Homo sapiens: one gene and its partners. The protein of the gene in region 1 purifies or fractionates together with the protein of each later gene. This does not show direct contact. Each region holds a gene or a part of one and is shown on either strand. Other genes may lie near its edges.

The links.
Region 2: the proteins of DNAJC2 (region 1) and H1-10 purify together in Homo sapiens (affinity purification with mass spectrometry; 2 studies listed by BioGRID and IntAct, with this or other methods). This does not show direct contact.
Region 3: the proteins of DNAJC2 (region 1) and SERBP1 purify together in Homo sapiens (affinity purification with mass spectrometry; 2 studies listed by BioGRID and IntAct, with this or other methods). This does not show direct contact.

The regions. Positions count from the first base shown.
Region 1 is NC_000007.14:103,334,128-103,342,046, forward strand, and holds part of DNAJC2 (dnaJ homolog subfamily C member 2), read right to left. Parts: intron 7,828-7,919; coding exon 7,637-7,827; intron 3,685-7,636; coding exon 3,609-3,684; intron 1-3,608. UniProt on the Homo sapiens protein: Acts both as a chaperone in the cytosol and as a chromatin regulator in the nucleus.
Region 2 is NC_000003.12:129,313,892-129,320,924, forward strand, and holds H1-10 (histone H1.10), read right to left. Parts: upstream 2,396-7,033; 5' UTR 2,012-2,395; coding exon 1,370-2,011; 3' UTR 880-1,369; downstream 1-879.
Region 3 is NC_000001.11:67,420,024-67,427,942, forward strand, and holds part of SERBP1 (SERPINE1 mRNA-binding protein 1), read right to left. Parts: intron 6,263-7,919; coding exon 6,112-6,262; intron 5,201-6,111; coding exon 5,060-5,200; intron 4,955-5,059; coding exon 4,865-4,954; intron 4,300-4,864; coding exon of another isoform or gene 4,255-4,299; coding exon 4,177-4,254; intron 164-4,176; coding exon 1-163. UniProt on the Homo sapiens protein: Ribosome-binding protein that promotes ribosome hibernation, a process during which ribosomes are stabilized in an inactive state and preserved from proteasomal degradation.

The sequences.
Region 1 (7,919 bases):
TTTTTAGTAGAGATGGGGTTTCACCGTGTTAGCCAGGATGGTCTCGATCTCCTGACCTCGTGATCCGCCTGCCTTGGCCTCCCAAAGTGCTGGGATTACAGGTGTGAGCCACTGTGCCCGGCCTGTTGTGAACGTTTTTGCAGAAATCTTTTGGCTGGGCACGGTGGCTCATGCCTGTAATCCCAGCACTTTGGGAGACTGAGGCAGGTGGATCACTTGAACTCAGGAGTTCGAGACCAGCCTGGTCAACGTGGTGAAACCCAGTCTCTACTAAAAAATACGAAAATTAGTCAGACATGTTGGCAGGTGCCTGTAATCCCAGCTACTTAGGAGGCTGAGGCAGAAGAATGAGGCAGGAGAACCACTTGAACCCTGGAGATGGAGGTTGCAGTGAGCCAAGATCACGCGACTGCACTCCACCCTGGATAACAGTTAGACTCCGTCTTAAAAAAAAAAAGAAAAGAAATCTTGAAAAAAAATTTTTTTAATTAAAAAAAAAAAAGAGAGACAAGGTCTTGCTATGTTGTCCAGGTTGGTCTTGAACTCCTGAGCTCAAGTGATCCTCCAGCCTTAGTCTCCCACAGTGCTAGGATTAACAGGGATGAGCCACCATGCTTGGCCTATAGAAATCTTTTCATGAGCATAATAAAATTATTTATTTCAACATATACTGCAAGGGTTCAGAAACAGTGACAAATATTTTTGGTATTTTTTTGGGCATTTTTTGAGGCAGTTTCCCTCTGTCACCCAGGCTGGAGTGCAATGGTGCAATCTCGGCTGGCTGCAACCTCTGCCTCCCAGTTTCAAGCGGTTCTCGTGCCGCAGCCGCCCAAGTAGCTGGGATTACAGGCATGCGTCTCCATGCCCGCCTAATTTTTATATTTTTAGTAGAGACGGGGTTTCGCCATGTTGGCCAGGCTGGTCTCGAACTCCTGACCTCAGGTGATCCACCTGCCCCAGCCTCCCAAAGTGCTAGGATTACAAGTGTGAGCCACCGCACCCGGCTCCTACTTCACACTTAATTAATTTTCATTACTGACATTCAAAATATACTCAACAAAAATAAAACTTTGCTTGTAATATGAAGCAAGCATTCAAAGGACATCAAATGGTACCAGATTTACATTTTTATTAGGTTTGTGCTAATAATTATAGATTTGCAAACAGTAACTTTGCATTTTAACTTTTAGATAGATTTTCAGAAAGCAATGAGTAGCAACTGTGTTTTACAGTGACAGAGGTGAGAGAATGACAGTTTCTTTCTAAATAAAGACTGACGGAATATTCCACAAGGGTGGTAGAGAGTAAGTTAGAATTACCCTTATTGTTAACAATCTCTACACTGGTGCTGCAAAATTTTTGGCTAGAGAATACATATTCAAAAGCTGAATTTCTTTTCTTTCTTTCTTTCTTTTTTTTTTTTTTAATGAGACAGAGTCTCACTCTCTCACTCTGTTGCTCAGGTTGGACTGCAGTGGTACAATCTTCGCTCACTGCAACTTCCGCCTCCCAGGTTCAAGCGATTCTCATGCCTCAGCCTCCCAAGTAGTTGGGCTTACAGGCATGCGCCACCGCACCTGGCTAATTTTTGTATTTTTAGTAGAGATGGGGTTTCACCACATTGGCCGGGCTAGTATTGAACTCCAGCCTCAAGTAATCTGCCTGCCTTGGTCTTCCAAAGTGTTGGGATTACAGGTGTGACCCACTGTGCCTGGCTAAAAATCAATTTCTACAAGGCCAATAAAAAGAGTGGATTTAGGCTGGGTGCGGTGGCTCACGCCTGTAATCCCAGCATTCTGGGAGGCCGATGTGGGTGGATCACCTGAGGTCGGGAGTTCGAGACCAGCCTGACCAACATGGTGAAATCCCGTCTCTATGAAAAATACAAAATTAGCCGGGCGTGGTGGCACATGCCTCTAATCCCAGCTACTCAAGAGGCTGAGGCAGGAGAATCGCTTGAACCTGGGAGGCGGAGGTTGTGGTGAGCCAAGATGGTGCCATTGCACTCCAGCCTGCGCAACAAGTACGAAATTCTGTCTCAAAAAAAGACAGTGGATTTAACAGAAGCATATGAATGCTTCTTTTACAATTTATTGCACATTTTTAATCTTCTGAGAAAGAATTCTTTCACCTTAAAACACAAACTATTCTCACAGTTCTATTATCAATTCTAATTAACAAATTTATCTGTACTAAGACATATTTGGTATTTGTATGCTATTCTATTTTTTCGGAAACAGAGTGTCGCTCTTGTTGCCCAGGCTGGAGCGCAATGGTGCGACCTCGGCTCACTGCAACCTCTGCCTCCTGGGTTCAAGCAATTCTCCTGCCTCAGCCTCCCAAGTAGCTGGGAATACAGGTGCCCACCACCACACCCAGCTAATTTTTTTGTATTTTTAGTAGAGACGGTGTTTCTCCACGTTGGCCAGGCTGGTCTCATATTCCTCACCTCAGGTGATCAACCCGTCTCGGCCTCCCAAAGTGTTGGGATTATAGGCGTGAGCCACCACGCCCGGCCAATGCTATTCTTTCGTATAGTAAAACTTTGCAAACACTTGTACGTGGCAAATGGACTTTTCTGGCATTTATTTATACTGGAATAACTATTCACATGCATTACCATATGCTTTGTCTAGACTCATGCCAGCCTTTAAACAAATCCAGTTTAAAATAATCTGATAAATTCCTTCACTTTGTTAAAAAATATTTCCTGTGATTTTCCTAAATGTAAGCAGTAATGGGGACGATTTTGAGTTCATCTACTATGCTAAGTATTGACTAATAATTTTTACCACAGGCATTCTTATTCAGTCATCTTCCTCCACATATAATACTTCCTCTTCTTGACAGGCCCTGACTCCCTGCTCCTTTTCCATGTGGCCACAATCTTACCCTCTCTGACCTCAATATCCATTCTCTAGAGTGGAGGGCAGAACATTCTCCTAAGATAGAAAACTGATCACCTTCACCTCTTACCTCTTTCACTAAACTTTATTAATCAGTTGAACTGATCACGTGTATAAGAAATTATGTCCACAGGATTGCAAAGCATAGGACATTTAGGAGCATTAAGGGATGGTGTTTTATAAGGCATATGAAGACTGGGGTCCCAACATTACCCTCTCCCATGCCAAATTATAACCTTGTCAATGAAAACAACAATAAAACATCAGACAACTTTTCTTGGACAGAAGACAGGGTGATATCTACAAAGGTGTGACCTAAGATTACAAAATAACGTAAAAAAAAAACCAAAAACCAAAAAACAATAAAAAGGCAGTATCCACTAAGTGCAGCTGCTATACTTCTAAAGAGAGGTGAAGTATTATTTTTTAAAAGCTTGCCATTGGAGGAGTATTTTGTATCCACACACACACACCCATCCTAATTTCTTATCCCTAATGGGAAAGTCTATATGTAAAATGGATTGCTTTCTTCTGATTCTGAAGGCAGGGGAGACCGTGGTTTTTTGCTTGTTATGACAATATAACACATGCTGTTAAATGTAGTTATGGCTGCAGACTATGATACTGTATATCTTTTAAAAAGCATAGCCAGCCTGTTCCTATACAAGATATTTGATTATTTCAAAATAACTAAGTACTTACGAGCTGCTTTGATCTGTCTCTGTGTAGCCTTGTATCTCACATGGCCAAGTCCAAGAACTGCATAATGATCTTGGTTCTGGAAAAAAAACACAAAAGGGAGTCAAATTTGAAATGAAGCCAATATATTCCATCCCTTGTGTTCTGGTACCTTAATAAGCATTTCCCAAAGTGACATTTCATCAGGAGTCCAGTAAGAGGTTCTGTATAAACCAGGGTCTATGGTCAGGTAAGGTTGAGAAATGTGGATTAGGCTGGGTGCCATGGTTCATGCCTGTAATCCTAGCACTTTGGGAGGCCCAGGTGGAGGATTGCTTGAGCCCAGGAATATGAGGCCAGCCTGGGCAACAAAGTAAGATCTCTGTCTCTACAAAAAAATTTTTAAAAATTAGCTGGGTGTGGTGGTGTGCACCTGTAGTTCCAGCTACTCAGGAGGCAGAAGTAGCAGGATTACTTGAGTCTAGTAAGTAGAGGCTGCAGTGAGCTGTGATCATGCCACTGCACTCCAGGATAGGCGACAGAGCAAGACCCTGTCTTTTTTTTTTTTTTTTTAATGATTTTAAGATTTTATTTTATTTTTTTGAGACGGAGTCTTGCTCTGTTGCCCAGGCTGGAGTGCAGTGGTGCCATCTTGGCTCACTGCAACCTCCGCCTCCCGGGTTCAAGCAATTCTCCTGCCTCAGCCTTCCAAGTTGCTGGGATTACAGGTGCACACCACCACGCCTGGCTAATTTGTGTATTTTTAGTAGAGACAGGGTTTCACCTTGTTGGTCAGGCTGGTCTCGAACTCCTGACCTCAGGTGATATACCTGCCTTGGCCTCCCAAAGGGCCAAGGGATTACAGGTGTGAGCCACTGCACCCGGCCAAGACCCTGTCTTTAAAAAAAAGAAGAGACAGGCTGGGCATGCCAGCTTACGCCTGTAATCCCAGTGCTTTGGGAGGCTGAGGTGGGTGGATCATGAGGTCAGGAGTTTGAGACCAGCCTGGCTAACATGGTGAAACCCTGTCTCTACTAAAAATACAAAAATTAGCCGGGCGTGGTGGCGCCCACCTGTAATCCCAGCTACTCGGGAGGCTGAGGCAAGATAATTGCTTGAACCTGGGAGGCGGAGGTTGCAGTGGGCCAAGACTGCGCCACTGCACTCCAGCCTGGGCAACAGAGTGAGACTCCGTCTCAAAATAAAATAAAATAAAAAATAAATTTAAAAAAGAGGTAAATGTGGACTATTATACAGCCTCCTTGATGATTTGTATGCACAAAGGCCTAAGAAAGGCTCTGAGAAGTCCTGTAATTAGATTTAAAAAATAAACAAACAGAAACCTGTAAAACCTAGCATTTTCCAAACTTACTTGACCAAAGACCCCTTTTTTCTCTTAGCACCTGTTGATAGCTTATGGCCATCCTATGGAACTTATGGCTACATGTTCTTGTTTACTTATTATGTCACTGGAATATAAGCTGTGTGTAAGCAGTAATACTGTCTTGTTCAGTACAGTATCCTTGACACCTAGAACAGTATCTGACATGGTGTTTGATCCATATTTGATGAATGAAAATAAACTGAACAAGTGAATGAACTCTGCTACCTTACTCTGATACAATCTACTTCTTTCTATACCAAAGACCTTCTCCCTCTTATAGATCTCAACACTCCCCAGTTCTGTCTTTTCCCGACTCTGCCTTCTCCTGAAGTTACTATCTTCTCTCATTTTCTTTACTACCCAGCTTTGAAAGAGTACTTTACACTTTGATCCTACTTCATCACTTCCTAATCACTCTTCATTCACTGTAATCTCTTGCCTTCCCGATCATTTTACTCAAACTGCTTTCAATGAGGACACCGAAACTTTTAGTTTGCCAAATCCAATGGTTTTTTTTTTTTTTGAGATGGAGTTTCACTCTTGTTGCCCAGGCTGGAGTGCAGTGGCACGATCTCAGCTTACCGCAATCTCCACCTCCCAGGTTCAAGCGATTCTCCTGTTTCAGCCTCCTGAGTAGCTGGGATTATAAGCATGTGCCACCATGCCCGGTCCAGTGTTTTTTAAAATAATTTTTCATGTTATGTGATTGACCTCTTTCTGAAGCAGTGACACAGGTGACTCTTCCCACGCCCCTTTTTTTGAGATAGAGTTTTGCTCTTGTTGCCCAGGCTGGAGTGCAATTGTATGATCTCGGCTCACAGCAACCTCCACCTCCTGAGTTGAAGTGATTCTCCTGCCTCAGCCTCCCAAGTAGCTGCGATTACAGGCATGTGCCACCACGCCTGGCTAATTTTGTATTTTTAGTAGAGATGGGGTTTCACCATGTTGGTCAGGCTGGTCTCGAACTCCTGACCTCGGGTGATCTGCCCGCCTCAGCCTCCCAAAGTGCTGGGATTACAGGCATGAGCCACTGCACCCTGCCTCTTTTTCCCTCTTGCTCCTCCCTTAGTTTCTGGAAGAATACGCTGCCTGATGTTTAGGAAGTATTTCTTCAAATAACAAAGTGTCTTTTTCTTTGTTTTCTTTCTACTTCTGTCACCCTTCTTAGTATCTTCTGCTGTTTTTCCTCCTCTTCCTACCCCTTAAATATCCATGCTCCCCAATGTTGTCTTTTTCTTTTAAAATGGATGAGGTGGTGGGAGAATCAGCTAACACTTTCTGAGTGCTTACTTTTCTAAATGTTTTATACATATGCTTTAGCTTATTTAGTCCTCTAAACAACCAATGACATAGGAACTCTTATTATCCATTATTTGTTTGGCATTTATCATGCAGCAAGTACTAACTTAAGTGCTTTATAAGCATCCTTTTATTAATCCTCAAGGTAAACCTTTGAGCTGTTAACAATCTCACTGTAGCAACAAGGGAAATGAGGTACACACATATCTGGGAACTTTCCCAAGGTCGAAGTGCACCAAATGGCAGAACCAGATTTGAATTCAGGCACTCCAATTCCACAGCATACGCATTTAACTATTATACAAGTACCTACTAAAGCATTATCTATTTGTTTATACTTTTGTCCCTTGCTGTTGTCATTCAATTCCTCACAGCAACCACCACTATGTGCCAATGACTTCAAAAAGTCTTTGGCTGTAACCTCTTTTTGGAGTCATAGACCAATTTCTAACCATCTACTAGACAGCTTCACCACTATGGTACCAAAACCTCAGTCTTCACATAGTCAAACTTGGACACAAACAGCACCTCCCACAAACATTCTTATCCTCATCCCAGCATTGGTTACTGACCACACACTCTAGCAGGTCACTCAAGCGCTAATGCTGGGAAGGACCTCTGAATACTTCTCTTTGTCTTGTGCCACACAGCCAGGGTCACCAAAGCCTGTTAATGCTACCTCCAAAAAAGGCAAATCTGACCCCTCTTCCTCAAAACCCAGCCACATAGTAAGTTCAAGGATTCAGTCACAGGTCTGCCTTAGTGCACTAGCCCTATAACAGTAAACTATTCACTTCCCCTCCAGTCCCTTGCCCCCTTTCAAGCAATTTCCTGTACTGCCAAGGGAATTACTTTTCTAAAATTAGCTAAGAAACTTTTGATGGTATCTTACTGTCCCAAAAATAAATTTTAATTCCTTCTTTAGCATGGTATAAAAAGGACACAACAGAGTTTGGTCTAGTGTCCTTTTAAAGACACTAGATTTCTCATCACCATACCGCATGTACCCTATACGACTTATCAATTCCTCAAGAGGCACTACATATTCTTTTACTCCTTTGTGTCTTTGTATATCTTACTCCTTCTGCCCAGAATACTTTTCTCACTTCTCTGCTTCACTAATTGCTGCCTGTCCTTTTAAGACCGGTGCAAACATTATCTTTTCTGTGAACTCTTCCTGGATTTCTCCAGCAGAGACAGTATCTCATGGCTAGTGCTAATGCTCTCAAGACTTAGTAATAAACAGATGCTAAATCATAGTTATCTTGCTGAATCATCTTAAAACATGTTTATTAATGGAAAACTCATAAGAAAATTGTCTATGTCTAACAAAGCATCTGACTGAACAAAATATTCAGATATTAAATACCTTCCAGTCTTTGGGATCAAGTGTTTTCAGCATGGGAAACTCTTCCAACTGCAATTCTTCATCTTCTGATTCCTCGGATAACTCTTTCTTATCCTCCAGTTCCTGAAAAGAGGCAGAAGCATTTCTGTTTCTCCTCTTAACAAAAGCTTCAAACCATCTTCCCACAGGTTCAACTTGACAGAGTGTAGAGGCTGTGATTGAAAGTGTTAAGAGAGGCTTCAGTGTATCGCATGGAATAAATATGTTTCAAGGCAATTAATTTTTTCAGGAAATAAAATCAAAA
Region 2 (7,033 bases), on another chromosome or scaffold:
CTCTCCAGCAATGCTCCCTCCTCTCCAGTCTATGGCCAGGAGGTCCTGCCTCCACCTGTAGTTTCTGCAATTTCTTACACAGAGGGTAAAACGAGCTCTCCTGCATTCTCACCTAACTCCAGTCACTCACGCTGGTATGAGTATATATCCACTGTTTCAGAAGCTTCCCTGTTTCCACTGCCCTTGGGGGCCTGTTTTGCAGTTGTCCATTTTTAGGGACATCTGTTAGAATAGACCTTGACCTATTGCCCAACTGGACAGACAACTATCCCACATGCTGGATACCAGAATGTCCCAGGGCTGGAGATCCTTCTGCTCCTACTAATTTTCCCAGCAATCCTTTGGGTCCCGTTTGCACTCTAGCTTAACCAATAGGCTCAGAGACAGCAAATACCCTTCTGAGACCACACGTTGGATTGTGGTCAGGAACTCCACTCTCTGGCCACCACACTTCGTCCTGGTCACATCTCACTCTAACCCTCGCTGGAGTCAGAATGACTAAGTTTACAGGCCAGTCTGGTGTGACTTTGTAAGAACTACCTCTCTGGAGGCCAAGTTTAGGTCCCTGACCATTAACTCTGAAAACCCATTAATCCCCCCTCCTCTCCCCTCCCCCATCCCGCTCCCCGCAATGGCCGATGGACCCCCTGTGGGGGCAGATAGATCCATCCCTCCTAAGGGACCGATCCTGTCTATCTCCCTGTCCCAGGTACTTTAAGTTCGTCCCAAGCCAGCAATTCCCACCCCTTGCTGAAGGCCCCTGGCTCCAGGCCTACCCTGGCCAACAGATCTGGGGTATAAGGACCCGAGGGGCCCGCCATCCAACCCCGCGTGCCGAAGGCGCCCATCCCTATTCCACTCAGATTAAACGAGAGAGGCTGAAAGGTTTAAACGCTTTATTGTGCCCAAAAAAAGGCCCATGGAATGAAGGGAAGAGCCGCGCAGCCCTGAGCCCGGAGCGATTGTTTGTCGCGCACCCAAAGGCAAGGAGGGTGGGGAGCTGGGAAAGGATGCGCGGCCTCCGCGTCCCCGCGCGCCTGGGCCCGGCCAACCAGCGACCCCGCCCGGTGGGCAGGCGCGGCCTCGGCCATCGGCGCCTAGGGGCCAGTAACCATGACGACGGCCGTTGCCAAGGCCGAGAGCCAATAGAGGCGTCGCCGGGGCTGTTTCAAAAACCTAAAGCAAACAACGAAAAACGCTACATCGTTGGGGGAGGGGAAAGACTGAGAGGACCCGGGGCCCCTCCCTGAGGCTCAGACCAGGCCTCGCGGCCCCGGCCGGCGTGAGCCGTACAAAATCTACGTCACTTGGGGTAGAAAAACAAAAACACCGAAAAGCCCACGCCGGCCGCTCTGACCGGCCGACACGCTCACTTGCGGCCCTTGGGCACTTTGGGGACGCTGGGCTTGGCCGCCTTCTTCACCTTCTTGCCCCCGGCGGCCGCCGTCTTCTTGGCCTTGCCGCCTTTGTCCTTCTTGGCGCCAGCGCCCTTCTTGTGCGAGCGCTGCTCCGGCTTCTGGCCCCTGGCGGGCTTCTTGTCCGCGCGCCGGGAGCCGGCCGCGCCCGGGGCTGCCTTCTTCGCTTTGTGCGCGGTGGGGGCCGGGGCGGTGGCGGCCGCCGGGGCTCCGCGCCGCTCCCCGCCGCCCTCCAGCTTCTTGCGGTTGAGCTTGAAGGAACCGTTGGCGCCGGTGCCCTTCACCTGCAGAAGCGTGTCGTTCTGCACCAGCGCCTTGATCGAGTACTTGAGGTAGGTGCGCCCATTCTGCTGGTCGAACCACGGAACCTTCTTGGCCTCGGTGTAGATCTTGGCCAGCGACGAGCCGTTGCGCTCGCCCAGCCTACGGATGGTCTCCACCACCAGCTGGCTGTACTTGCCCGGCTGGTTCTTCTTCTTGCTATTCTTCCTCTTCTTAGATGGGGACAACGCCGCCGAGCCGCCAGCCTTGGTCACCTTCTTGGCCATTCCCTCGGCGGTCGTCACTGGCAGGGCCTCCTCGAGCTCCACGGACATGGTAGCAAGAGGATTGGTGGCGGGCGGCGCGCGGAAGCCGGGGGGCCGCGCCGGGAAGAGGAAGGCGAGGGGCCGAGGGGGTGCAGGGGGGCTGGGGGCGCGCGGCGGCTCCAGGCGGGAGCGGCCGCGGCCGGGCCTGGGGCCGGGCGGCAGGGCTGGGGTGGGGGCCGGGCCGGGCCGGAGCGAGGGTTGGGGGGCCCGGAGCCGGGGCCGGACTAGGGGACCGAGTTGGGGGTCAGAGACCGAGTCCGAGCCGGCGGCTGGAGCTGGGGACGTAGACCTAGGCCGAGCCGGAGCGAAGAGAAATCCCGCCGAACGCGAGACACCGCCGCCGCAGCTTCCACTGGCGCCTCTGGAACTCGCTGGGCGTGCGCGCTGCGCTCTGGCGGGAGGGCGCTTCTCTCGGCTTTTTATAGCTTCATGGCGGACCACGTTGAGAACAACAACAGCCTGGTCCGGGGCCAGCGCCAACTTGTGCTTCTTGGAGCCCCTTCTCCGGCCGCTGGCTTCTCGGACCGCGCCTCTCCAGCGCCGCCGCGCCCGCAGCGGGGCGCCCCGGACAGGGCCTGAGCTCCCGGCGCAGTGGAGAGGCGACTTGCGTCCTGGAAGGGCTCAGCAAAGGCGAACGGAGAGGTGCACCCTAGGCTGCGGGAGCGCGAGAGGAGGGGGGCACCTCGTTTGGAGGCCAATAGCGCGGGCCCCAGAGGAGGCCCCACGGCCGGGAGCTTGGCGGCCGGCAACCCAGAGAACGCCACGGGCACCCGAGCCTTGTCCCGGCCCGGGGGGCTCCAGGCCTGCCCGCAAGAGGAGCTTTAATTTGTCCAAACTAACACAGGGCGCGCCCTCACGTGGTCGGCTGGGGCAACGTGAACTGCGCTAGGACATCCTCGGGGGTTTTCCGCCCCATCCAAAGGGGATGGCGGATGGGAGGCACTCTCCAGCTGCACCCCGGGTTCTGGTTGTGCCTCTGGGAGCCTAGGCACAACCCGGGGAATGGAGGACTACGGCAGGACCTCTCTAGGGACACTGCCTCGCCGCTCCCCCCACCCTGTTGCCGCTGATGTTCCCAGGGCCTCATTTTGTAATCCACAAGTAGCTGCCGCCGGTCCCCCCAAAGCCAAATGGGGGCTCCAGGGTGGGACAGGGTGGGCGGGGGTGAGGCTGTGACACCCAGAGGAATTCCTGTGAGAGGATGGGGAAGGGATTCGCTCTTAGTTCCTGGGTGCACCCCTCCCCCTCTCCCGTGCACAGGGAAATGATGGCGGGAACACAGCAAAGGAGACCATGTCCTGGAGAGGGTCCCGGGCCCCACCCTCCCCGGGGGGGCTTGTGCAAGGCTGGCGGCCCGATCTCTGCTGATTCCAGTATTGGGGGTGCAGAGAAGGCACAGGACAGTTTTTGTTGAAGCCGTTGCAGCCTCCACTTGGGGAAGCTGAGGCCAGGGTAAGATGCTCGGGTAGGAGAGGGGATCCCTTTGGGGGTAGGTGATGTAGGGCACAGGAGTGGGGCTGGGGCTGGGGGGTGGCAGGGTTGCAGGCAGGAGACAGTCTCCAGAGGCCCAGCATAGAAAAGCGATGGAGGGGTGAGGGGGGACAGGACGCTGGCGAATTGGGGTTCCCAGAGTGAGAGACAGGAACATTTACAGGTGGACAGAGTAAAAGGCCCTGAAAAGGGGGTGGGTTGGTGCATTTGTGGCCTTGGGCCCAAGCAGGCTTCTCTGGGTGAGGGCTAGCAGCACCTCCCCTCTTCTCCAGCTCACCCCTTTCACACACACACACGCCCCCCATTTTGTCACCCTGTCAAGGGAATAAACCCCAGAGAGGAAGAAATTATGTCTAGGAGGAAACGGTGAGCCTGGATGGGTTTTTTAGGGGGGAGGCTGGCAGGGGCATGGAGCCAGGAAACAGCCTTCGCCCCCCAGAGCACCAGGTACCCTGAGAAAAGTGAGAAGAGAGATTGCAGCCCAGGTCCCTGCAGAGGAGGATGGGCTCCTTTCCCAGGAAGGACTGGCTGAGTGGACTGTCTCCAGGGCACAGGACAACGTTGAGGGCCTGAGGCCTCCACCTTCTTGAAGAAGGACCATGTGAATTTCCTGACAGAGAACGGGGATGGGTTTCTGAAAGCACCACCCAGCTGAGCCTGCCGAAACTGCACAGCTGTTTCCAGGCCAGGCTGGCTGCATGGAGGACGTGAGAGGAACAGCCAGCTGTGTGTGCTGGGCCCACTGATCAGGGTGCTCAGGACCAGGAGCCTTCTGAGGATGTGCAGAGGGGACTCTGGGGAGAGGAACATGGTGGCCACAGCTGGAGTGACCGCAGTGTACAGAGATGGGATGGGAGCAGGAAACCCAAAAGAGCCGGCCCTGGAACCAGGTGGAGGGGAGGCAGCCCGGCCATGACCCAGAGCAGGTGATATGATTTGGATCTGTGTTCCCACCCAAATTTTAGGTTCAGTTTTAATCCTCAGTGTTGGAGGTGGGTCCTGGTGGGAGGTGATCAGATCATGGGAGTGGATTCTAATGGTTTAGCACCATTCCCTCGGTGATGTCCTCATGATGGTGAGCTATCATGAGATCTGGTTGTTTGAAAGCGTGTTGCACCTCCCCTGACTCCCTCTCTTGGTCCCGCCCCTGCCATGTAGGACACCTGCTCCACTTCACCTTTTGCCATGAGTAAAAGCTCCCTGAGGCCTCCCAAGAAGTTGATGCCCTGTGCTTCCTGTACAGCTGCGGAACCGTGAGCCAATTAAACCTCTTATCTTTGTAAATTACCCAGTCTCAGGTAGTTCTTTATAGCTTTGTGAGAATGGACTAATACAAGGGGCTTGAGCTTGGGTCTTTTGAAAAGTTAAAGGGTGAGCAGAAGCGATACCCCTGAAGGAGTCCCAGCCATGGGCAACAGGGCCATCGCTTGGCCTTTTGTGCAGCCACCGCAGGGGGGAGGAGTGGCATGCTGGACATGCCACTCTGGAGCTGGCTGCAGCCACAGGCTGGGCCAGGGACACTCCTGGGTCATCTGTGCTGGAGGAAGGGGATGCTCTAGTGGAGACAAAGGGACAGGGTCACGGAGGAAGGCGGGACCCAGGTGTGGCCTCCTTCATGACATCTGAGGAGAGGAGATTCGAGAGAGGAGGGCTGGGCACCGCAGCCAGTACAGCCACTCACAAAGTAGAGCCGCAGTCCGGGCACTGAGGAGAGCGGCCAGGCTCGCAGCCACGGTGCCCCGGGGGACCTGGCTGGGACTGCAGGGGAGAAGCAGTCAACACAGGGCTGGAGCCCTGTGGGCAGGGCAGTGCTGTCCAGTCCCGGGGGGAGGACACGGAGGATGCAGCTCAGACCCCACACCAGCCTTGGTGGGCACACGGGCTGGGGGCCGGCTCCTCAGCCTGTGAGGGGAGCGGGGCTTTTGTCAAGAGGGAGGCTGCCTGTGGCGCAGGGCTCAGAAGACTAATTCTAGACTTTGGGAGCTGGCATAGACTAAGTGGGATCTTCCACTTGCCCTCATGATATGGTAGAGGCAACTGAGGCTTGAGGAGGGGGTTAGCCAGGAGACCAGGACTCAGGCTGGGGTCTTGCAGCCTTCAGGGTGCCTCTTACCCCCACACTGCTGGTCATCCCTTCTGCATTACCCCACCAAGGAAACTGTAGGTGGGGAAGGTCCCAGGTCCTCAACCAAAAAAAATGGCCAAATATGAGAAAAGGAGCTTCTGGAAGTGGCCAGGGCCTAGCAGAGACCAGGGCAAGACCATGTGCCCAGCACCTGAGTCGCGCCCTTCCCTGGGCCTGGCCAGTCTGGAGGAGGCTCTGGCTTGTGAGCAGTGGGGTTTCTGGGGTCGGAATCTGGAAGGGGCTCTGTGGCTGCTGGGCTCTCTCTCTCCTCCTTATCTAGGGGATTGTTCAGTCCTGGGGCTGCAAACACCACCAGTACCCTGATGATGCAGTTCATTTCCCTAGCCCGAGGTCAGCCTCTCTCCCGTGCAGACCCCAGCATCCCGCTCCTCTTGCCACCCTCACCTGGAGCCTGGGTGTGGCCAACACAGACCCTGCTCCTCCCAAACTTTTGCCAGTGATTCTGCCCAGAGACAGGGACTGCTCCCTGATTTCCCTACTCTCTTCCAACCCATGGCTTCCTCCCCATCTACCCCAGAACTGGTCCCACAGCTGCCGAGCCCCCACCCTCTCTACCCTTTCCACCCAGCCTCCTGTTCTGTCCGCACAGCCCCAACACAGAAGTCTGAGTGGTGGGTCCTGGCTCTGCCAGAAGGTCTCTAATGGCTTCTCACCAGACGTAGGGTAAAGTCTCCCAATGCCTTTGCCACTGGCCCCTACCAAGGCTCTGACCGCAGCTCCCCAGCTGAGCACTCAGCCTCATAGCCTTTTTTGCTGCCCACACATACCCAGAGGGTTCTCAGGACCTGGGACTTGCTGGGGTGGCCCCATGGCTGGCTCCTTCCCTGGCCGGCCTCCCTAGACCCCTCCCTAGGGCTCCTACCAGAGCACCCTCCCTGCCTGGCTCACAGCCCCTGCCATCTAGTATGTCCGTTGAGTTGTGGGCTGTGAGCTAAGTGCAGGGTGGGGGAGGTCATGCTCCTAGCTGTACCAAGGCGGGGTGGACACAGTGCGCTCCCGACACAGACACACCTGCAGCAGCAGCGGATGGGAGGATGGGGGTCAGGAGCTCCTGGCTGGGCTCTGACCCGGGCTGTCCTTCAAACGCTGGGTGTGATCCCTTCCCCACCACCACTGCCCAGCCTCAGTCTCCCAGTTTGTATAAAGGGGCTGGATGTATGGAGTCTGAATGATCCAGCTCGACAGTCTGATTCTGGGCTTCCAGACACACACTCACCATTCACACCTACAGTTCACACACACAGACACCTACTCACTCACACTCAGATTTACCTTCACACACGCTCACCATTCACAGCCACAGTTCACACCCACAGACACCTACTCACACATATTTACCCTCACACATGCTCACCATTCACACCCACACTTCACACTCACACTGATACCTACTC
Region 3 (7,919 bases), on another chromosome or scaffold:
TTTATGAAGAACAAATCCCTTCTTCCACTGCCCATCAGCACCTTCATTTGGTTTTCGGATATTAAATTCTACTTTTGCCCGGTCCTTATTTTGAATAGCCTTCCACTCATCCAAAGTCATCTCTTTTGGACCCTCCTCTTTTACCTCTTCAACTTCATTCTCCCTGTGAAAAGGTTTTCAAGTTTTATACCTGGTAGAGAGCTGATATTACATAAAAGTATTTTAAATTTATGATTTTAATTGAGAAAATTAACCTTGTAATCTTTTAGAGAAAGATTATTCAAGGATGAGGGTACCCTAGTTTCCTATGTAACTAAGCAACTTGGTAGAGACCAGGAATTCAGTGTTTGCTAATTAGAGACAAGTAAGGAATATGGAATTCATACTTATGAACTCTTAAATGATCATTTATCAGTAATACAATCTAGAACTGGCTTTACGAATACTAAAATACACATTTCTTAAAAACACTACCTTGTTTAAAAACTACCCTCTTATGTAAAATCCTCAGCCTATCTTCTCCTAAACCACATTTTTAATTTCCATAATTCCCACAATATGTAACTCTTAATAACATACAAGAAGGTAATCCTCTAGGATGTCTGTCAGCAACCAGGGTTCAAATTTTGGAATATAAAAGAACTGTTCCTCTATGCTTTGTTTCAGCAACTAGCACTTAGAGCAAATCAAAACAATAGCCGTGTTTCTACAAATCCTAAAATCCTTATACTCCAATTTTCAAACCAACCTGTATATGGAAAGGAGGCCATGGATTCACTACTAATAGAACTATCCACAAACACACACTGGTTTCATTATTTAATACTAAACCATTTATTTCCAAATATAATTCTCAGGTCTTAACTATAGAATATGATCCTTTCCTCTTTTTACAGAAACAAAGCACAGGCCTAAGGATCCATTATTTTAGTATAATCTCAATCTGCAATTGTCACCAAACAAGTCATTTGCTATTTGGGGAGCCCTGCTTCTTTCCAAAGATAGCAGGTGATTCAGTTAGCCTTAGAGCTCAAATATCTCCCTGGATGCTGCCCTTTACTGTTTGACAAATGCTATCTTAAAAGTTCCTCCAGTTACATCTATGCTGCAAAAAAAAAACAAAAAACTTCCTAGAGCAAGTTTATATTGAATTGACAGGATCTTGGGATCTTGGGTACTGAGTCCACCTAGTCATTTTACAGATGAGAAATCTAAGAATATAAAAAAAGTCCTGCTTACCCATATGTTATGACACAGCCAGGAATAGAACTTAGCATACCTTTTATCATATCATGGAGGCATGACACCTACCTTTCAGGAATTACTGCAAGGATTAAATAAAAACCAAACAGAAGCTCTGGAAGCTATATATAAGTTAGTTCATCAAAGTCAGCCAATGTTGTGTTTCTTAAATTTATACTTCCATATGCTATGCCCAGATTCTCCCCTAGTCTGGAATAAGATTACAGACAGTTCTAATGTGATGGATAATTATTTTCTTTAAACCAAACACCCTCAGTTTCGCTCCTGGGCACTGAGCTAAGGATTTGCTACCAATAGCCTATCAATACATTAGTACCTTTTGGTAAACAGTTATAATCTTTGCATATCACTGAGTGATTGAACATGGGCTCTATTAAACAGTTGTGGTTGGACACGGTGGCTCACACCTGTAATCCCAGCATTTTGGGAGGCCAAGGCGGGAGGATCACTTGAGGCCAGGAGTTCAAGACCAGCCTGGCCAACATGGTGTAACCATGTCTCTACTGAAAATACAAAAATTAGCCAGGCATGGTGGAGCATGCCTGTAGTCCCAGTACTCGGGAGGCTGAGGCAGGAGAATCGCTTGAACTTCAGAATGGCCAAAATCGCGCCACTGCACTCTAGCATGGGAGACAGGAGACTGTGTCTCAAAGAAACAAAAAAAAGTTGTGTTGACCACTATGAGAAACTTAACGTTGCATAGGGTTCATTTGTTAAGGCACCAATCACAACTTCATTGTTTATCATGCAAAATTATGATTCCATTATAGTTTTGCATAAATTTTTATTACCAAGTTCAAAACATCACCCAATACCATGTATTTTTATCTACTCCCTCCAATAGTATATCATTTTTCCTTATCCCAACAAATCCACGGAATATGATATTCCCATCATTAACAGTGCTCACCATAAGAGCAAATTCTTTCTGAAGAAAAGAAAAAGTTTAAGGTGCGGCAGCTCACGCCTGTAATCCCAGCACTTTGGGAGGCCAAGGAGGGCAGATCACCTGAGGTCAGAGTTCGAGATCAGCCTGACCAACATGGAGAAACCCATCTCTACTAAAAATACAAAATTAGCCGGGCGTGGTGGCACATGCCTGTAATCCCAGCTACTCAGGAGCTGAGGCAGGAGAATTGCTTGAACCCTGGAGGCAGAGGTTGCAGTGAGCCGAGATCACGCCATTGCACTCCAGCACAGGCAACAAGAGCAAAACTCCATCTCAAAAAAAAAAAAGAAAAAAGAAAAAGTTTAGAAAACATCTGCCCCTCCCACCCCCCAACTAACTTGAATATGCTTCTGGTTAGGAATCACTGTCCTAAATAACCTGTAATCCAAGACTTTAAACCACAATACTGTAACAAATAACTGGCAAAGTAAACATGATTTTAGGTCAGGCGTGGTGGCTCATGCCCGTAATCCCAGCACTTTGGAAGGCCAAGGCGGATGCATCACCTGAGGTCAGGAGTTCGAGACCAGCCTGGCCAACATGGTGAAATCCTGTCTCTACTAAAAATACAAAAAATTAGCTGGGCGTGGTGATGCATGCCTGTAATCCCAGTTACTCGGGAGGGTGAGGCAGGAGAATCGTTTGAACCCAGGGGGCGGAGGTTGCAGTGAGCCAAGATAGCGCCACTGTTACTTCAGCCTGGGCAACAGAGCGAGAATGTCTCCAAACAAAACAAAACAAAACAAAACAAAACAAAACAAAACAAAACACCATGTAATTTTAAAAGCTAGTGAAGGGCTGGGTGTGGTGGCTCACACCTGTAATCCCAGCACTTTGGGAGGCCAAGGAGGGTGGATCACCGAGGTCAGGAGTTCGAGACCAGCCTGGCCAGCTGGTCTAAAAAATATAAAAAATTAGCCAGGCATGGTGGCGGGTGCCTGTAATCCCAGCTACTCCAGAGGCTGAGGCAGGAGAATCGCGTGAACCCGGGAGGCGGAGGTTGCAGTGAGCCGACAGTGCCACTACACTCCAGCCTAAGCAACAAGAGTGAACTCCATCTCACACACACAAAAAAAAAAGTTAGTGAAGGGCTGGGCAAGGTGGCTCACGCCTGTAATCCCAGCACTTTGGGAGGCCAAGGTGGGTGGCTTGCCTGAGCTCAGGAGTTGAAGACCAGCCTGGGCAAAATGGTGAAACCCTGTCTCTACTAAAAATACAAAAATTAGCCGGGCCTGGTGGCAGGCACCTATAGTCCCAGCTACTTAGGAGGCTGACGTGGAAGGATCATTTGAGCCCAGGAGGCGGAGGGTGCAGTGAGCCAAGATCACTCCACTGCACTCCAGCCTCGGCAACAGAATGAAATCTTGTCTCAAAAAAAGAAAAAAAAAAAAAAAGATAGTGAATAACATACTCTGATCTTTGCTCTCTTCATACATTTAAAAACAGGCCAGTAATGCTATGTTCCAAATTCTACATTGGAAATAACTTCAAGATAGAACTAATGTTAAAATGGCCACATTTTCTAGTTTTAACTATCTCAAAGTAAAATTTGTACAGTTGTATGACAATGGTAAAATGACTAATCAAACAGAAATAACCACATTAAAATATTCTATTTTTCAAAGCGTTAGAGTCAAATATATACACATAAACCACTCTTTTAAGGGCTGGGTGCAGTGGCTCATGCCTGTAATCCCAGCACTTTGGGAGGCCAAGGCAGGAGGAACGCTTGAGCCCAGGAATTGGAGACCTGCCTAGGCAATATAGTGAGACCCTGTCTCTATTAAAAAAAGAAAAAAAAAGCATTCTTTCAAATACTCTTTGAGGGATGAGGGTACAGTAAGTCTCCCTTGTCAAAAACAAAAAGCCATCAAGTAACAGCATTAAATCTATGGGTTATCTTATTGGTAAAACTCCAGTGCTTTCAATTCTGGGTCATTACTATTACACGCAATACCACTTACTTATTTTCAGTGTCTGCCACTGGATGATGTTCTTCACCTTCAGGTGTTTCCTCAGTCACATTTGATTGATCCAAGTCACTGTAATTATAAGATATTTGTTTCTGAATGTATTTGGGGGACTCTCTAAGGAAAGAAAGAAAAAGAAAGGCATCTAGGTCCATTTACATGTAGCTGAAAAGTTCTTCATACAAAAATACCATAAGCTCTCACATTCTCTAACTCCTTTCTTACTAAATATACTCCCCAGAAGACGTCGAAAAGTAAACAATATAAACTAGTTAGTTCATATACTTCATACTTAAAAAGTAACAGAACAAGGCAGTTAATTATAAAATGAAGCTTTACTAGCTTATCAAATTTTGTAATGACAACAAAGTCAAAAGCTAGAATAGGAACTATTAAGGACACTAAGATAATCAGAATACCCAAATAACCTTATTGTGGGGTTTCAGGAAAAGCTACAAATACATATGGGGGGGAAAAAATGAGTAACAAATATATCGAAATATTAAAAAACCGGTCATTCAATATACTATAACCCAAACCCATCCCATAAGACATTATCTTGTAATATAGTAACTCTCAGAAGAGAGCATTCATTCTTATCTCAGAGACAAGTAAAATTTGACAGAGGTATGGATTAACCTCTAGTTAGGTATAGAATTTTTAAGAAAATCAGAATACCAACGTTAATTCGTCTTTGACAGTTCCCCAGTTGTGAGATCCGCTACCTCCACGTTTGTCCTCGTGCTTCAGGCCACTGTAATGTGAAAAAGAACTAACAAAACTGAGTTAACATAATACTCTTTAGTTCTAGAAATTCAAAGTTTGTTTATTAAATAGATTAAAATATTAAAGTAAAATAAAAACCAGTAAGACTTACGATCTATCACTTCCACTATGCCTATCAAATTCACGTTTGCCACGAGAATCAAATCCATCTCCTCGGCCCATTCCACGTCCACGGCCCCCTCGACCTCTTCCAAGACCACCACGACCTCGAATAGGTCGGTCAATAATCGGTCTATAATATAAACAAATAAATTATACTTCCATGGTTTCCAGAAGAAATGAGGAAAATTCATCCAAAAGATCAAAAATACAGAACATGTTTACTGGCTCAAAAACCAATAGTTAAATACATACACTTCAGAAAATTCAAAATAGTCTGTTTCTAAACACAAAGGAAACCAGAACAAGACAGCCTCCCAAAACAAGAAAACTATTTTAGCACTCTAAAGCATTACTACCAGTGCATATACTTTTCCACTGCTATTCATTGCACATATAATCCAGTCCATCACTATTTACCAATACACTTAAAAATTAAACACATCTAACTTGCATAAGTAATTTATTTGCTATAAACAATAAACCAACAGTATTTTCCTTCAACTAACAGTATTTTCCTTTTAACTCTGTATCTGGAGAGAGAAAGAAAAAGAAATTGGTTATCAATTCAACAAAGTGTTTCCATTACAAGAGACCTAAGTTTGAACTGTTACCCAAAGATCTAAAGCTTAACAATGCACACATACAGATGTTTCTGTGAAAAATTAATAGAAACAATTAGCCAGACTGCTACCTGGCAATTATGCCCAATTTATAGCTTAACATTAAAATGTGACTCTATAAAGTAACAAAATATGAAGACTTCTTTGGTTTACGCCTGTAATCCCAATATTGCAGGAGGACAGCTTGAGCACAGGAGCTCAAGACCAGCCAATGCAATATATATAGTGAGACCTCAGCTCTACAAAAAAAATTAGCAGTGTGGTGGCGTGACCTTGTAGTCCGAGCTACTCAAGAGGAGACTGAGATGAGAGGATCATTTGAGCCCAGGAAGCAGAGGCTGCAGTGAGCCAAGCTTGTACCACTGCACTCCAGCCTACATGTTAGACCAAGACCCTGGCTCAAAAACAAGAAACAACTTACCTATCAACTGAAAATTCGCCTCCTTCACCCTTTTCTTCAAGTGGCTTTTCGAATCTTCGTTCACGAGGTGGTCGCCTTTCTGGTCTTCTATCAATTATTTTCCCTTCACCCTGAAGTTGTTGATCAGGTCTTCTTCCAACTCGTCTTATTCCTAAAACGATAAGATAACCTGCATAAGCAAATTATTTTTGCAATCCAAAAACTTTAGGCCTGGACTGTCAAAAGCTGCTTCTCTTCCAATCCACTACCATTTCCTGTTGGAAAAAAGCAAACACTGGGCAACTCTAATGTGTAACAAAGTACCTTAGGAAAACTGCCATTTAAAGACAATAAACCTTCCAATCCATACCACCGACTAAATACATAAATAAATAAAATAAAAACAATAAACTTATTTTAAACTTCTATTTAAGTTTGCCAAGTTCTCCCCCTCAAAAGCATTTTCTATAACTGACTTGGAAATCATTTGGGCAACCATTATTCCCGTCACTTTCCAAGATAGTCTCTTAATAAAAACTTTTAAATTTAAAAAATTTTAGGCAAGCAATACATTTTGGCTTTTAAAATACCAAAGAAAATACCAGCAGCCATTCATAAATAACCAAGCAAATCAACACACTCACTAGATATGGCCCCTCACAAAAGTGAGGGCCGCACTATGTTATTCTATCTAATCTGAAAAAAAAATGCAATTAAGACTCATAATTCTATAAAATTACAAATCTGAAAGGAAAATATGGCATTTAGGATTATTAGAGAACATCACTTCAGTTTAAAACAGCCATTTAACCAGAAAAAGTGTCATCTTTTGGTCTTCTTAGCTACAGGCACACAAAAAGGGCCATCTTCCCCTATTAAAGTTTAAAATTTTATAGCATGTAAGTGTATATATGTTTGTACACACTCCCACATCCCTAAGTACTTCCAAGTTAGGAAACAGTTACTTATTATGCATGGAGAGAGTCCTCTAAAAAATTTGCCCTAACAACTATCTTTATTTTCAAAGAATCTTTAAAAACCAAATACACACACGTTAAGACCGCTTTTAAGCAACATGTAAGAAATAAGAAAACTTGTGACACTAAGTGATAGCTGAAGCATTTACTAATTTCCCCCTTTACTACTTTTTTCCTGTAATGTCTGAAACCCCACAAAGGCAACCAATTTAAATTATTGGTGCCCATAAGGATCAACAGATTGATGGTTAAATTAATGACTTTAAGATTGTTGGTATGCTCTAATTCCCAATTTCTGACAAAGTCATAAAGCAGCTGAGGAATTGGTTTTACAAGATTTTAAGCTGCTTCACTTTGGTTCTTTCTAAGAAAGTAGAACACCATCAAGACACACCCAGTTGTTCTGCTGCCTGTTAACTGGAGCCAAACAGTAACTATCAATCTCTTCAATAGAATTTTGAAGTTCATTCCCTGTAAATACTCAAGATAGACTACAAATATTAGACCTTACACCAAGGTATTTAAATAAATGTCATCAGTAATAAAGTGCACTGGGGTGGAGTTATGGAACCAGTCCTTGCAATAATATCCAAGCCAAACACACCCAAGTGAACAATAGTTGGCGTCCCCACCCAATATCAAGTTTACAGAATCTTAAAAACGTATTAAACCTACCTAATGAAAAAGACTGACATTTAAAAATGCAAGCTTCTTTTGATATACTTATCTATAACTTGCAAGCTCACTAACTGCACTAGTTTCAAGGCATTCATTCTTTTTTAGAAAATCCCTGGTCTACACTCTCAATGACATTCTGCTGTCAATTCTCAAGTTCTTCAAATGGGCAAGAGA